Homo sapiens: one gene and its partners. The protein of the gene in region 3 purifies or fractionates together with the protein of the main gene of each other region. This does not show direct contact. Each region holds a gene or a part of one and is shown on either strand. Other genes may lie near its edges. The genes, in order: PSD2, HINFP and ZBTB49.

Region 1 (3,651 bases), on a different chromosome or scaffold from region 3:
CTAGCACCCACACCTCTGATCATGAGCTGACCCCGCTGAACACCTTGCCAGACCAATCTTCCTCATTCTAGCGCAATCTTTACAACTCAGCTCAGGATACAGTAGCCTGCAGCACACCAACACTTCCACTGAAAACAATAAAAACCATGGGTTTTCTTAAGATATTGGAAAATTGCTGAGGCAACAAAGACAAAAAGGGCCAAGATTCTGGAGAGGAGAGAACTGCGGGAAGGTAGTTTGACCTTCTGCAGCTGCTTTTTCCCTGGGGGCATTGCTGATTATGGGCACAGGCAAGAGGCAGGGCATTGGGTGGCTTCAAGAGGCTGGAGACTTCAGGGGCTGTAAACACATGGCCACTTTTCCCTTTGAGATAGTTGCTGAATTTCAGAGATATAAAAGATGTAAAAGGCAGGAGGCTAAAAGGCTAAGCAGAAAACCTCTGAGAAGTAGAGGGATATTTTGTTGAAGAGGGGGCAGTGTTGCTGCACTGAGAAGACAAAACTAGGCTTCTGAGCCAACAAGGGGGTTTGCCCAACTGAACACATGAGGCTCCCAGTAGAAAACTCCGAGGGCCTGGACCCTATTATCAGAGCAAACCCTGAGCCATACCAAACTTCAGTGCAACCTTAATTGGATTAGCACTGCATCCCCACAAACCTTCTAACTGCCTAGCAAAGGACAACGTAAACCCTCTCTGGAGGAACACAGAATAATCTAGAACCACTACAATTCTATACAAAGTATACAGCATCCAATTTTTTTAAGTTATTAAGCATGCAAAGAGACAGGATATATGATGGAAAACCAAGAGAAAAAAGAGACAATAGAAACAGATACAGATGATTCAGATGATAGATACTGGAGTTAGCAGCAAGGGCTTTACAACTAATATGTTCAAAAAAAGAGAGGGAAAGGTGGAGAAAATAATGGAAAAGATGGATAATTCACCCAGAGAATTAGAATCTATTTTTTAAATTTTTTAATAAAATGGAAATTCTAGAAATGGAAAATATAACATAAATTCAAAACTCAATAAATGAGTTCAAAACCCATTTATGCCTATGGTTCCATTATTGGAACGCTAAGCATGTGGGAGTTATTTATATCCTACTGCTCAAGGTGATCGCCAAGGTCTGATTTTGCAATTCAGAAAATTGCAACCTCAGGCATAAATGGGTTAATGACATATTACAAACAGAAAAGGGTAAGTGAAGTGAAGTGAAAACAGGTCAACCGAAAATATCCCAACAGAAGCAGAGAAAAAAGAATGGAAATTACTTTTTTTGTATGTGGTTTTTGTTTGTTTGTTTGTTTCTTTGAGATAGGGTTTCACTCTGTCACCCAGGCTGGAGTGCAGTGGTGCAGTCATGGCTTACTGTAGCCTCAACCTCCCAGGCTCAGGTGATCCTCCAACCTAAGCCTCCTGAGGAACTGGGACTACAGGCCTGCACCACCATACCTGGCTAATTTTTCTACTTTTTTGTAGAGACTGGGCCTCCCTATGTTGCCCAGGCTGGTCTGGAACTCCTGGCCTCAGGTAATCTTCCAGCCTCGGCCTCCCAAAGTGCTGGGATTACAGGTATGAGCCACTGTGCCTGACCAGAAATTACATTTTTTTAAAGTGTAAGAGACATGTGGAACACAGTCAAGATGTCTAACGTGCATGAGTCACCCTACCCCTTAGCTCTGAGATGCATCCATCTCTCCTAGGACCTGGCCAGTATCTGCCCAGCTGGCCCCTGCCACCAGAGCCTGCTAGATACTACAGGGCTGCACCCATCCATTCTACCCTCCTGCTCCTGGGAACCTGCAATTGGCCCTCCTGAGGTCTACTCCCTAGGTCCAAACACCAATAGAGTTGAGATAAAATCCCATTTTACCATCTCCTCCTTCGATGACTGTGGGGAAGTCTCTTTATCCCTCTGGCCCATAGTTTCTTCATGTGAAAAATAGGAATGATAGTGCCTACCTTACTGGGTACAGAGGATGCAGTAAGCAAGGTGAGTAAAGACCTAGAGCATCTGGCAGGCAGGAAGTGCTCAATACAGGCAAGTCCTGAGCCTCCCTTCCTCTCCTAGAGTCACAATTACATTTCCACCCTCACATCCTAACAGCTACTACAAAGTGGGCACTCGCCTAACTGTTGGGCCGCTGCTGCTCCTGTGGCCCCTTCCCCACAGCCTCACCAGGGGTCAAAAGACTTGCCCAAGGTTGTACAGCAAGTTTATGGTAGAGTTGACATGAGAATCCAGAAGTGCAGCCTGTACCACTTGTGGGCACTGCCTGTCCCAGCCCCACTGACCTGAGTGCTCCGTCCAGAGTCAAGCCCGAGAAGTCGAAGAAACTGAGGTACTCCCCGGCCACCAGCCTGCTAAACTCGTTGCTGCCAGGAGAGTATGGGATGTCTGTTAGAAGCAGGGTCCAGCCCAAGGATGACAGAATCACAGGCATTACTTGGGCCCAGGGTACCCGGACCCACCCACCCCCTAGACCTGCTCAACCCCTAGGCTGCTGGCTAGTTGGGCCATAACATTCAACCTTGGTCTTGGGGTGTCAGGAAGGCTTTCTGGAGGAGGTGATGTCTCAGTCAACACAGGGAATTACGAGCTAACCAGGCGAAGGGAGTAGGGGTGGGATGATGCAGTGTCCCCAGGGAGGAAACTGCATGGCATGTCCAAGAAGCTACTAGCAGGGCCATGTGGCCAGAACCTAAAGAGCAAGAATGGGGCAGCAAGTGATGAGGCCGGGACCAGGGGAAGGACCAGGACTTGATTCAGAAAGGTTAAAGCAGGGATGGTCAGTCTGTATTTTGGAATGCGCTACCTGCTGAGTGGAGACCCACAGGGGGACTGCCATAGTTGTCCAGATAGAGATAGAAGGGATGGGGAAAAGAGAAATTTAGGGGGCAGAATCCACAAGACAAGGAGATGGAATGGACGTGCGGCATGACCAAGAAGGTGGTCCCCTGCGGGAGATGTGAGACTTCAGGACGAGGCATCCGTGTGAGAGTCATCAATTCACAGCTGGTCAGTAACAGCTCAGGGTGGGGCTGAGCCCATGCAACAGGAGAGGGCACAGACAAGCTGGCCGGCCCAGAGCCCCGAATCGGGGTGGGAACCCAGGAGCGAGCCAGCGAAGGAGGCTGAGAAGCAGCAGCCAGAGGTGGGGTGTGTTGTCCTGCAGGCCAACGAAGACTGTATTTCAAGAAGACTGGCATGAGGAATTCTTGTCAAAAACTAGAACAAATTTCCACCTGATTCTAATTAAGCCTGGAGCTCGCTGCCCATTTGCAGGACTCATGGGAAATAGAGAAACATGTTAAATAACACCATCAGGATACCATATCCAAACCGTGGAACATTCTTTAGGACAAATGGCTTGGTTTCTTCAACAAATACACGGCACTTAAGAAGGGAGGAGGACCGCCAAACTGCAGAACTGTTGTTGGTTAAAAGAGACTTAACAGACCAATCGGCCAAGTGCAATGTGTGGACCCTGTTTGAATCTTGATTTCAATAAACCAACATTTTTTAGACAATCAGAGAAAATTAAACACAGACTGAATGTTGGAGAGATTAAGAACTTTTTGTTCATTTTGTTAGAAATTATAATAGAATCATGATTATGTAAAAAAAGATCCTTATCAGTTGG
Region 2 (3,651 bases), on a different chromosome or scaffold from region 3:
TGTTACTCAAAGTATGCTTCTGGAACTGCTTGCATCACAACTGGGGTGCTGAGTTAAAAGGGCAGATTTCTAGGCTTAACTCCTGCCTTCCTGAATCCGAACTTCTCACGCAGGCGCTGGATAACTACATTCGTGTGCAGATCTAAAATTGAGAGCTACCTGGGCATGGTGGCTCACATCTATAATCCCAGCACTCTGGGAGGCTGAGGCGGGTGGATCACCTGAGGACAGGAGTTCGAGACCAGCCTGGCCATCATGGTGAAACTCTGTCTCTAGCAAAAATACAAAAATTAGCCAGGCGTGGTGACACACCTGTAATCCCAGCTACTCAGGAGGCTGAGGCAGGAGAATCTCTTGAACCCGGCAGGTGGAGGTTGCAGTGAGCTGAGATTGCGCCACTGCATTCCAGCCTGGGTAACAGCGAGACTCTGTCTCAAAAAATAAAAATAAAATGAAATAAAATTGAGAACCTTTAGTTTTTTGTTTGTGTGTGTGTGTGTGTTTTTTTTTTTTTTTTTTTTTGAGACAGAGTCTTACTCTGTTGCCCAGGCTGGAGTACAGTGGCACGATCTCGGCTCATTGCAGCTTCTGCCTTCCAAGTTCAAGCGATTCTCCTGCCTCAGCCTCCCGAGTAGCTGGGATTACAGGCTTGTGCCACCACGCCTGGCTAATTTTTGTATTTTTAGTAGAGACAGGGTTTCACCATGTTGGCCAGGCTGGTCTTGAACTCCTGACTTCAGATGATCCACCTGTCTTGGCCTCCCAGAGTGCTGGGATTAGAGGTGTGCACCAGTGCGCACAGCCGAGAACCTTCAGTTTCATGTTTATCTTTCTTCAATAAATATTTATTACAGACTGGGTGCAGTGGCTCATGCCTGTAACTCCAACACTTTGGGAGTCTGAGGCAGATGGGTTGCTTGAGTCCAAGAATTCGAGACCAGCCTGGGCAACATGGCAAAACCCTGTCACTACAAAAACAAAACAAAACAAAAATTAGACAGATGTGGTGGCGCATGCCTGTGGTCCCAGTTACTTGGGAGGCTGAGGTAGGAGGATCTCCTGAGCCTGGGGAGGTCGAAGCTTCAGTGAGCTGTGATTGTGCCACTGTACTCCAGCCTGGGTGACAGGGTGAGACTCTGTCTCAAGAAAAAAAATATTTATTACATGCCTAAGCATGCCTAGCAGTGTATAGACACCCAAGGTGCAGTATAAACTACACAGATACGGCTTTTTATGTTCAAATGGAATCTACATTTTAACAGAAGGTATTAGCAGAGTGGTGGAGTAAACCGTTGGATAGGTTAGGTAAAGGCAGATTGTATGGCACTGTGAAAGTCTGGCAGGGGACTTATGATTCAATAAGAAATAAGGAGCTTCTAGGCTCATCTGTAGGCTCTATGGAGTAGAACCGTATATGGACTAGAGTCAGCCCAACATGACCCTACCATTACCACTAGTGTGTGGCCGTGAGCAAGTCAGTTGACCTCTGGAACTTCAGGTGTTTATCTATAAATGAGGTTAAAAATAGCACCTACCAGCTGGGCGTGGTGGCTCACACCTATGATCCCAGCACTTTGGGAAGCCAAGGTGGGTGGATCACCTGAGGGCAGGAGTTTGAGACCAGCCTGACCAACATGGGGAAGAAACCCTGTCTCTACGAAAAATATAAAAATTAGCCAGGCGTGGTGGCGGGCGCCTGTAATCCCAGCTACTCAAGAGGCTGAGGCAGGAGAATCGCTTGAACCCGGGAGGCGGAGGTTGCAGTGAGCCAAAATCGAGCCATTGCACTCCAGCCTGGGAGATGAGCGAAACTCAATCTCAAAAAAAAAAAAAAAAAAAGCACCTACGGCAAAGGGTGGTGTTGGTAATTAAATGACATAATGCAAATAAAATGCTTACTGTGGTGCTTGACATATAGTAAGTGTGAAATTAAAAACAAAAAGATTTATTATCTTCATTTTGCAGATGAGAGTATTCAGAAGTTAAGTTCTTGACAAAGGTCATACAGCTAGTAGATGGTAGACAGTGGAGCCAGGATTTGAACCCTGATCCTTCTCAAAAGCCATCTGTTTGAACCTGAGCATTGTTCTGCCTCACAGAGGAATAATTCCTTCTTGGTGGGTTGCTCTGAAGCTTCATGAGAAAATGTCTGTTAAAGCGTTTAGCTCAGTGCCTGGCACACACTCAATAGTGTTAGTTTTTGTTTTCCCTTTCCACAAACACCAGACATCTTCCAGGGATTTAAGGAATTACTCCATCCTTACTGTAAAAGGGCAGGGTTTCTCATGGGTCACTGGAACAACACGTGCTGATTCTAGGCAGGCTGCCTGCCCAGCTTTTTGCCCTCAGCAGCACCTGGGTGGAATTCTTGCAGCTGTGGATTTCTTCCTCTTCCTCTAGGGTGAAGGCCATGCCGCCTCCTGGGAAAGTTCCCCGAAAGGAGAATCTGTGGCTACAGTGTGAGTGGGGGTCCTGCTCCTTTGTGTGCTCAACCATGGAAAAGTTCTTTGAGCATGTCACTCAGCACCTGCAGCAGCACCTGCATGGCTCTGGGGAGGAGGAGGAAGAGGAAGAGGAGGATGACCCACTTGGTAAGAGAGCAGGACACAGGAAGGGGAGGAGCTCAAGGAAAGGTGGAAAATCTGACTTTCTTTTCCTTAGAGGGAGAAGGCGGCCTAAGAGAATGGTGGTTTATTTTCCTAATTGTGTTTTTGTTGTATATAAAAACATTGTAAACTCATTTATAGAAAACTCAGTCAACAAGGATATAAGGAATAAATCTGCCATCCTGCCATCAAGAAGTAATTGCTGACAGTACTTTAGTGAACATTGTTTTTGACATCTCTCTGCCTGTGTTTACATATATTTAAATACAGATGAATGTGCTTTTTTTTAATCATTCTGTACAAGTTGTTGGCAACCTGTGTTTTGTTGTTGTGTTTTTTTTTTTTTTTTTTTTACTCTTCTAGTATTCCCAATTTTTTTTTTCTTTTACTGCAACCAGTCAGAAATACATCTTACTTTTTAGAGACAGGGCTTCATCTTGTCACCCAGGTTGGAGTCCAGTGTCATGATCATAGCTCACTGCAGCCTTCAACACTCAAGGGATCCTCCTGCCTCAACCTCCCGAGTAGTTAGGACTGCAGGCATGTACCACCACCACACGCCAATTTTTAAAAAAATTTTTTTTAGAGACAGGATCTTGCTTATGTTGCCCACTGATCTCAAACTCCTGGCCTCGAGCAATCCTCCTACCTTAGCCTCCTAAGTAGCTGGGACTATTGGCTTGTGCCACCAAGTCCAACCCCACTCCCACCTTCCAATTTTTTTTTTTTTTTTTGAGACGGAGTCTTGCTCTGTTGCCAGGTTGGAGTGCAATGGTTCGATCTCGGCTCACTGCAGCCTTTGCCTCCCAGGTTCAAGCAATTCTCCTGCCTCAGCCTCTTGTAGCTGGGACTACAGGCGCGCGCCACCACGCCCAACTAATTTTTGTACTTTTAGTAGAGATGGGGTTTCACCATGTTGGCCAGGATGGTCTCAATCTCTTGATCTCATGATCCGCCCACCTCGGCCTCCCAAAGTGCTGGGATTACAGGCGTGAGCCACCGCACCTGGCCCCATCTCTCACTTTTTAACCTTTGTCTGACTTAT
Region 3 (3,651 bases):
CAGGGGCCAACAGTGAAGTGATGCCATCAGAGGCAGCAGGAGGGCTATGCTCCCAGGCATCTGGAAGGAGCGGCAGATGACACTGGGCCCTGAACTTGACTTTCAGCGTTCAGGTAGCTACAGCAGAAAGGGAGATGCGCTGCCCGCCGCAGCTTTTGTTTGTTTTCTACCATTGGCAGAGAAATGGTTTTCCTGAAACTGAATCGAGAGTCGCTTCCTCCTCGGCTTTCCCCAGCATGTGCTGAGACTGAATATGAGGACACTGACTTCTAACTGACCCCGTGACTATCTCTTGCCTCAAGGCACTTCGGTATGAATCTGTGACAGGCAGAGACTCTGTACTGTTTATTTTTATGGACCCATATAGCACTTGGCATACAGCAGGTGTCTAAAAAATGTTGAATCAATGAATGATTAAATAAATGAATATAAAAGCTACGTAACCAAGGTGCGTACAGAGCTTCGTGACTGGCATAGTCCTGGCTGATGCCTGTTGTCCTGGCACAACCACCAGATGATGGAGTACGTGGCCTGATTGACGTACAGCCCAAGGACAGGAAGGAGGGTCGAGGGTGCCAGCCTGCACACACAGCAGGGGAAGAGCTCCTCATTTATACCACGCTGCAGAGGAATCGAGCTGCCACACACTTTATTCCACGTCAAGAGTCAGATTCTCTTTTGCCAGGTCAAAATCCTACCCACCCATCAAGACTTAGTTTCCTCCTCCCTGGGGTGGAGCTCTCACAGGCTGTTACAGACCCACGGCTTGTGGCACCTTCCACCACCTCCTTCTCTCCTGAAATCTAGTCACTCAGCTGCCAAGTCCCATTTCCCCTACTAGACAGTCACCTCCTTGGGGGCATTAATCTATTATATTTTCAGAGACATTTTTAGAATGAATGAAAATATTAGTATAAAATAATTTTGTTGCATTTAAAACCCCATTTCCTTTTTGGGACTCCTGTCCCAGCTTTTCTTTCTTTGAATTAACTTTTCTTTTTATTATTCTCTCGTGTGTCACATGCAAAGCCAGAAGGTTTGAATTTACCTGTGTTCTGCAGTGGCAGGGTGAGCCCACCTGTGGCTCATCTGTGAGCCACCACTTCAGAAGACACTGACTACCAAAGACACTGAGACTAGACATGCTCCCTTCCACACGGAAGAACACGCCCAGCACTGACCTCTTTCCACAGATCTCGCAGATGTATGGTTTTTCACCAGAATGCCGTCGTAAGTGAGTCTGCAAGTTACCTGCCTGCAAAAAGAGGAAAAGAAAAACACACCAATAATGAAAGTTTTTGGTTTTTTAAATTATATAAATTCAAAAGGAAAACTGACACATTTAGCCAGGTTCCAATTCAAATTCCAGATGAAGATGAGCTACACACAACTCAAAAGAAGCCATGGGCAAGAGCGTGAAGAGCAGCCAGAGTGCCTGGCCACCTGCTGTACACGAGATGTGTCTCCACCCCGTCCTCCATGTGAGCCCTTGGCTGTGTCCTAGTTCAGGCAGGCCCTATGCAGTGCTTCCCTCTTAACAGCACCCTGTGGAGGCTGCTTTGGTGGTCGCCAAGCCTGGACTTTAAATAGGCCTTGATGTATTTTATTTGGGCCATGTATTTAAAACATCACTTAAAACAAACAAAAGCACCATACGTCCTTATTTCAGTATTGTTTCTTTCTAAAAAACATACTTCTGTTCATAAAGAAGGGAAGACATTTCCAAAAAGTACTTCCTCTGGCAAGTACACTTGGTTCTTTCTGACAGGTTTCTCAATTTTACCTTTGTGCAAAAGGGCAAATCAGGAGAATCACAGCAGCCTCTCAGGTGCAGGGCCATTGTGTTCCTAATTTCTGAAACTAGCAAGGCTTTGCGAAGAATAACACTGAAACGGAGATCATCAGATGGATTTCTATGTACTAATCAACAGGAAATCAATATTAAATTACCTAAAGTACAGCGAAATTAAAACTGCAAATGCCTCAGATATTTAAAAAGCTAATTGCTAATGTTTCGAATTAGGTTTGGAAAATCTTCCATTGCTGTAATTAAGTTAATAGTCTCAACCTTTATTTTCCTCATTTTAATTTTGTACAGTGTTCTGTGGCAAAAAAAAGAAAAAGAAAAAAAAGGAAAACCTACTGAAATGAGGTAATATACCCAGCGGTAAAAATGAGCAGGTGTCATGCACAAGATAAGTGAAAAACGAGAATGAATACTAGCCAACTAACACACGGGGCTTTTTTTAATTTGCAAATTGCATTTTAAATAAAATGCAAAGATTAAGATTCATGGTTAAGATTTGAAGATGAGTTTGATATTGACTTGTGAATGAAAACTAGAATTCACAAGTATTAAAAATGCCATCTGCGGACTATATAACATGAAAGATTCATCATGTCTATCAAATTCTGGGAAACAGAGTTAGACATTACATTTAAGAATATGATAAATGTGGCTTCGAAAAAACTCAAGTTTATTTTCAACAACCAAAGAGAAAGAGTTTGACAAAACTTTGGAAAATGTCCAGCTTTTAATAGAATGGCTCCTAATAACAATAAAACAAATATCAACAGCAATATACATTTGCTGAACTTCAAATTAGGCCTTTACCACCTATTTTCTTGAGATAATAATACAACTAACACTGTATTCAGATAAACTGTACAATTACCATTGTATTCAGATAAATAAAGGAGTTGTCTCAGTTACATGGTGGGGCCAGAAATTAATACTGGTTGCTGTGAATCTAAACTCCTCTACTTGTGGGGAAACCTTGAGGAAACACAAGTTTCTATGAATGAAATAGTGTGTTTTGAATATTCAATATGACGGTAACTTTGCCACTCAGGAAACACATACTGGAGAGTTAAAAATAATACACCAGTGTTTTAAATTAGTCACTTGCAAATTTCAGAAAAGCTGATCAGTTGCATAATAATCGGAATAGCACCATCTGCTGAACTGTTAAATTAGAGCCCTCTTTTTTCGGTTATTTTGTAAACTATGTATTCTGAATGAAATGCATTCTGGGTTAATTCTTAGCAATGTTGCATTTTTCCTTTTTAAAAATGGCATAACGATTACTTGTTTTCAAAAGAAATATAATCAAATGATCTTCCATTTAATATTTTAAGTGGTAGAAAAATCTTTAAAGTGTTCTTTACCTATTTTGTACTAGAAATAGATAATGAAAACAATCTTTCTCCCTGATACAGGAATGCATATTTCTGATAAATAATATAAAAGCAGATTAAATAAAACTAATGGAATGGGCCATGCAAAAAATCCAATAGTACATTCAGATAATTTATTCCAGGTTACACAGCAAACTCAGGCCCAGATTATTAGAGCTTTAGTCAATATTTTTATTTTTGGTAAACTTTTGATATATTCTAGTACTAAGGATATCTTAGGTGCACAGACCATGTCTTAGAAATCACCTATAGTTGTGTCCATAAAAATTCTAGCAAGTAGGCCGGGCGCAGTGGCTCATGCCCGTAATCCCAGCACTTTGGGAGGCTGAGGCAGGTGGATCATGAGATCAGGAGATCGAGACCATCCTGGCTAACATGGTGAAACCCCGTCTCTACTAAAAATACAAAAAAAAAAAAAAAATTAGCCAGGCATGGTGGCGGGCGCCTGTAGTC

What was found.
Region 1: the proteins of ZBTB49 (region 3) and PSD2 purify together in Homo sapiens (affinity purification with mass spectrometry; one large-scale study listed by BioGRID and IntAct). This does not show direct contact.
Region 2: the proteins of ZBTB49 (region 3) and HINFP purify together in Homo sapiens (affinity purification with western blotting; one study listed by BioGRID). This does not show direct contact.

Annotation. Positions count from the first base shown.
Region 1 is NC_000005.10:139,816,213-139,819,863, reverse strand, and holds part of PSD2 (PH and SEC7 domain-containing protein 2), read right to left. Parts: intron 2,384-3,651; coding exon 2,303-2,383; intron 1-2,302.
Region 2 is NC_000011.10:119,124,535-119,128,185, forward strand, and holds part of HINFP (histone H4 transcription factor), read left to right. Parts: intron 1-745; exon of another isoform or gene 746-1,233; coding exon of another isoform or gene 1,234-1,265; intron 1,266-2,400; coding exon of another isoform or gene 2,401-2,410; coding exon 2,411-2,591; intron 2,592-3,651. UniProt on the Homo sapiens protein: Transcriptional repressor that binds to the consensus sequence 5'-CGGACGTT-3' and to the RB1 promoter. Transcriptional activator that promotes histone H4 gene transcription at the G1/S phase transition in conjunction with NPAT.
Region 3 is NC_000004.12:4,310,645-4,314,295, reverse strand, and holds part of ZBTB49 (zinc finger and BTB domain-containing protein 49), read right to left. Parts: intron 1,256-3,651; coding exon 1,182-1,255; intron 1-1,181. UniProt on the Homo sapiens protein: Transcription factor. Inhibits cell proliferation by activating either CDKN1A/p21 transcription or RB1 transcription.